Regions from separate parts of the Homo sapiens genome. Here region 1 is linked to region 2. The links come from fine-mapping of genetic effects on gene expression. A gene starts in region 2. The other region holds a variant in brackets. All regions are shown on one strand. Distances are from middle to middle. Region 1 overlaps TFPI (tissue factor pathway inhibitor). Region 2 holds the start of TFPI (tissue factor pathway inhibitor).

Region 1 (2,931 bases), 49 kb after region 2:
GACATAAAAAAGGATGTGTTCATGTCCTTTGCAGAGACATGGATGAAGCTGGAAACCATCATTCTCAGCAAACTAACACAGGAACAGAAAACCAAACACCACATGTTCTCACTCATAAGTGGAAGTTGAGCAATGATAACACATGGACACAGGGAAGGGAACATCACATACCGGGGTCTGTCAGGGGGTGGGAGGCTAGGGGAGGGATAGCATTAGGAGAAATACCTAATGTAGATGATGGGTTGATGGGTGCAGCAAACCAACATGCCATGTGCATACCTATGTAACAAACCTGCATGTTCTGCACATATATCCCAGAACTTAAAGTATAAAAAAATAAATAAATAAACAGTATGGAAAGGTAGGGGTAGAAAGTAACTTCATAGTGGAGAAATCTAACAATCATTACCCCAGTCAGGTGTTTAAGATCAATATCAGCAGTCATAAATTATGTTGGTAGTATGTATCCTTGTCATAATGTGACAAAAATGGCACTTTAACTCTGTTATCTTCTTTCCCAAACCCCATAACCCTGGTCTAATTATGAGTAAAAACATCAGATAAATTCTATTAAGGGGATACCCTGCAAAATACCTGACCAGTATTATTCAAAACTGTCAAGATCATCAAAAATAAGAAAAATCTGAGAAACTGTCACAGCCAAGGGAACTTAAGGAGAGATGACAACTAGAGCAATTTGGTATTCTGGATGGGTTGCTAGAACAGAAACGTGCTGGGGAAAAGATAAGGATATTTGATTAACATATGGACTTTAGTTAGTAACAATGTATCAATTTTGGTATATTAACGATAAGTGCACCATACTAACGTAACATGTTAATAGGGAAACTGGGTGTGAGGTGTATGAGAAGTCTCTGTACATTCTTCTCTATTTTTTTTTAAATCTAAAACTATTTTAAATAATGGGGTCAATTTTTTTAAAAGAAGATGTTTCTATTAGAAAGCCAGGATTATGGGCTTATCAAGCAGATGTTTACAGCAAATTCTCTGCTGAACTATGGGGGGAGGAGATCTGCAAATGGTGTTTTATAAATCTCTGTTTTCTAATTTTAAGAAAGCTGGATTTTTCCAAAAGGAAAAAGATTTTGCATGGTATATAGAAGTTGGTGCATGGATTCATCCCTACATTAAATCTGTTATCACCCAGAACCAGACAGCATTTTTGAGTAAAAATTTAGATATTTGATTCCTCCTGCAATTCATGTACTTTATTTGCCTTTTGCTTTTCTTTTTTTTAAAAAAAAAATTACATACGCTACTATTTAGCTATGGCTTGCTGTGGTATATAGTCATATAGTCATATAGTCATTTATCTGTCTAACACCCTTCCCTTCTGAAAGCAACAATTTCCTCCTTCTGGGAGTTACACTTGTCCGTTTCCACCACCCAAACCATATGGTTCCATTAATATTTGCCATGCTATTACATTTTCTTATTCCTGACCCCAGACTGGTTTTGGGTCCACCAAATCTATGATGGTCTCCTACAATTCCCAACTCAAATGGATTGGTCCAAAAGGTGTCCCTTGTTTCATGCTAAAACTATCAGAGCTAGTCTCAAGCTATTTAAGCCTGGACCATAAAGAGAAGTAGTCACACTATTTTGATTGAAAAACTCTTAAGGTTTAAAACCCAGGACAGTTCATTGTTCATGCATCATGCTATGCAGAGAAGATTGGGTCACACTGAGAGAAAATAAAGCTGTCTAAGGAGTGTAGCCACAATGAGA[A/G]ATACCTGGTGGTGCTCAGCTCACCAGCTCTAGCTGTTTCTGAGAACTAATGCAAGCCTGCCCTTGTCATCTCAGATTGTTCCACATATTCTAGAATAAATAAACTGATGATCCAAATTTGTCAGAGCTGGTTTCTAATCCTAGCACCCAACGAAAGTCTAAAGTACTAAGTTTAGGCAATACCCTAGGCTGCCATTTTTTAAGACAGGAACTTGCTGAATTTAGAGCCCTCTCTCTCAAGGGCTTCAGCAGGCCCCCAACCTCAGCCTGCTTCCTGAACTGTGTGATGCAGAGTACACTCTGTATTTTATACTCAAAGTATAGCAGGATAGTATATTTCAAAGAATCAAATGGAAATAAATGAATCTCTGAAAAACGTGTTCAAAAATGCGATAAGGATTAGAAGTTTAGTTTCAAGATTCTTCAAAATCATGTATCTATATAAATATATATATATATTTGTGAATTCAAATGGTTTATGGTATGATTTACAAGATATATGAGATCTCTACTGACTAAAAATCAAATGTATGTTAACACTTGCAAAGTGTTGTGAGAAAAAAAGGTTATGTATCTCACTAGTGATTTTAATGAAACTTAAAGCATAATAACATTTATTACTTAATTATTATATGGCTACCCACAATGGTGTATATTGCAGCTGTGATCTGCTACAGACAAAACCAGATAATTCTCTAGATTGTTTTTGATGGAGTATCTGTCCCTGCATTTGTGAATGTTTGCTGATAAGATCTCGCTTTCCTTCCTGACTGGAAGGGCACTGGTGGCTGAGAACAGGAAGGAAGCAAGTGTTCTCTTCTTTTATTTTTCTGTGTTGCATGATCATTACACTTTTCCTTCCACCTTTAAATCCAAAGAAGAAGTCGTCTTTAAAAAAATAAAGGTGACTTACTTCTTTCTTTTCTTTTTTTTTTTTTTCCTTTTTGGCGATAGATCTTTAAACAACGTTGAAACAGGAAAAGTCTCACTCTCCTATTGAAATCTGATTCCTTTAGAGTGTAAGAGTGATGGCTTATCACTTAGAGTCACTTTTCTGTGAAACTTTTTGAATCAGATAACTCCCTAAACTGCGGAATAATGAACTGGGAAAGAGGACTAACTCGAATGTCAGACACTTCTTTTGTCCTCTGTTTTGGCTGTCTGCTATCTCACAGAAAACCT
Region 2 (2,931 bases):
GAGCTGAGATGGCAGCAGTACAGTCTAGCTTCTGCTCGGCATCAGAGGGAGACTGTGGAAAGAGAGGGAGAGGGAGACCGTGAGAGGGAGAGGGAGAGGGAGACGGAGAGGGAGAGGGAGAGGGAGAGGGAGAGGGAGGAGAGGCGAAACTTTCAAGAAAGAAAATCTGATTGGCTGAGCTTGCCTCTACCTGAGCTACAGATTCCTCAAAAGTTTAATCAAGGTCCATGGTGGTACCAAGAAAAAAGGACTTTCCTCTACAATCTGAGTGAGATGATAGCTTTGATTGTGGTTGAGGGGCAGGGCATGAGGTAATAGGAGATAAGTTATTAACATGATATGAAATCCAGAACATGAGTGAGAAGGCAGCATGGAGGAGGATTTATGCATTTTTGCTCTAAAGGCAGACTGCATGACATTAGAATCACAGCTCCACATACTGAACTCGATCTTCCTAGACATGTGAAATGGGCATACAAAGAGGACCTTCTTTATAAGCTAGTTGTGAGAATTAAATCGATAATTTATGTTCCAGTCACCACCAAATAATTATTCAATATGTATTAAAAACACTCAAGATGAAAGGTTACCTTTTACAGAGAGGTCTAAGGAAAGCAAGAAAAATTGAAGGCACAAAGAATCTGAGATGCAGAAGCAAGAAACTCCTACATTTTCTGACCAAATGTCTTCAGCCTTCCTGGCAAAGTAGATTCTGCCCATTTATTAGATCTCTAGTGATCTTAGTCTGATATGACCATAATTCCAATACAGAGACAGTACGGATGAACCTCAATGATAGGGACATACAGCAGAGACTCTGGTTGACATCTGTAAATATTTACATATTTTGTAGAATAATAATAATAGAAATACAGAAAACAGCGATAATGATAGCCAACAATTATTGGAGGTTTGCTACATGCTGGGTCCTGCCTTAAGTACTTTTTATGTATTAAGCCATTTAGTACTTACATCAAGCCCAGAAACTTTTATTATCGACATTTTAGGAACAAAGGAACTGAGGCATAGTGAATTCAAATAACTGGGCTGAGTAGCCAAGTTAGCAAGTAGCTAAGGTAGGGCTCAAAGCCTGACACCTGCAATAGATAATGCATTACATTGTCTCACTAAGAGAGACCTCCAACGGTAGCCCTCAGACTTTTAAAAAAAATAAATACATTGACAGTGGGTGAAACAAATGAAATAACTTGAAGAAGAAACAAACTGCAAAAAAGCTTATTAACAGTGTAATAATAAATATGTAATTTTTTAAACCCTAACTCTAGGGGGAAAAAAGCATTCTTTTTCAACTGATTACAAAAACAATCCTGGAAAGTAAAGGAAATAGCTATTCAAAATGATCGTATCTGAAATCTTGGTGTAAGCTGTTTCCTTCATCTGTTTCCTCCACTAAAAAAAAGAAAGAAAGAAAGAAAAAAGAGGTTTAGACTAAATAGAGTCAGAGTTGCAGTGACCTAAACAGGAAGTTGGGCTATTCCCAACTGCCAGTGATCTCTGAAGCCGACTCTGAGGCTCCCTCTTTGCTCTAACAGACAGCAGCGACTTTAGGCTGGATAATAGTCAAATTCTTACCTCGCTCTTTCACTGCTAGTAAGATCAGATTGCGTTTCTTTCAGTTACTCTTCAATCGCCAGTTTCTTGATCTGCTTCTAAAAGAAGAAGTAGAGAAGATAAATCCTGTCTTCAATACCTGGAAGGAAAAACAAAATAACCTCAACTCCGTTTTGAAAAAAACATTCCAAGAACTTTCATCAGAGATTTTACTTGTGAGTACCTGGCAATATACTGTCTAGCCCATAAGAAATAACTTTAATTTCTTTTTCTCGGGGGAAAAGCAGGGTGCTGAGAGGCAAAGAACTGATAGGGGAGGATCACTGTTTATTTGCGTAAAATGAAAATCAGCCCTTCCCTGTAAACAGAGTAAACTCAAACTGCAATCCAAACTTGAGTTCTCAGCATTTTGCATTTAGTTCTTAAGCAAATTTATGTGCAATTTTTATGATTTTAAACCATAAACATTTTTGTAACTAATTGGTGTATGTAGCTTTTTTATAATTTGAAGATTGTAGTAGAATTCTTTACTAATTGTGCTTGGTTAATTGGAAGTTCTTGAAAGTTCGGTTTACCTTTCCATTTTATTTCATAACATATAAAATAGAGACTGTTATTCTTCTATTCAAATAATCTTTCAATACTATTAGTTGATGATATTTAAAATGAGGTATAACCATTAAAATAATCGTAATCTAAATGGAATATTTTATGCCAGCATTAACTAATCTCTCTAAGGAAATATTTTACAATTCTCCAAAGACCAAAGGTCATATTCTGAGATACTTAAACGAGAATACTTACGATCAAGTCTATGTTGTGCAATTTTGTAAATTAAAACAATAGATAACATGCCTACATGATGTACTGTTATGTTCCTGTTATAAAATGTTTGCTTCTAGTGAAAAATGAAAGCATATAATACAGCAGTAAACAACCACAGAAATATAATGAGAGAAACAATTATTTAATTATGAAAAAGCACTCATTAGTATAAAATAATTACCAAAAATAAGGGCCAAGAGTACTACCATGTGGGAAAAAAGAAAAGATAAGCAACAGCCACACTGTGACTCAGTGCTCTGGAAATTAGTCACAAAATGACTTTGTATAACATGAGATAATATAAACACAAAGGGCAAAACTCAAGCAGGAAACATACTGCCCAGAGAGTCATATTTCATGTGTAAAAGCATAATATTTACATGAAAGGGGGAAAGTTGTGACAATTTTGAGAGATACTGCAAAACTTTTGAATAAAATGTGTTAGGGAGGCAAAATCTCCCTAACACATTTTAAAGATTATTTTAAATCTATCATTCTAGTGCATGATTATTTCAATATACAGTGTCCATATCT

The links. PIP is the estimated chance that this variant, and not a neighbour inherited with it, causes the effect. A credible set is the group of variants that fine-mapping cannot tell apart.
Region 1: its variant is the best candidate, but not a certain one, in a credible set for the expression of TFPI in nasal epithelium (TOPMed, PIP 0.70).

Annotation. Positions count from the first base shown.
Region 1 is chr2:187,504,324-187,507,254 of GRCh38, reverse strand. All of the region lies in intron 1 of TFPI (tissue factor pathway inhibitor), which reads left to right. The region is part of intron 3 of CALCRL-AS1 (CALCRL and TFPI antisense RNA 1); the gene reads right to left. Among named protein-coding and RNA genes, the nearest start is that of TFPI, 49 kb to the left of the region's middle. The variant A/G (reference allele first, on the strand shown) is at 1,750.
Region 2 is chr2:187,553,056-187,555,986 of GRCh38, reverse strand. TFPI (tissue factor pathway inhibitor) reads left to right here and starts at 1,552. Exons shown (of 8, transcript NM_006287.6): 1 at 1,552-1,787.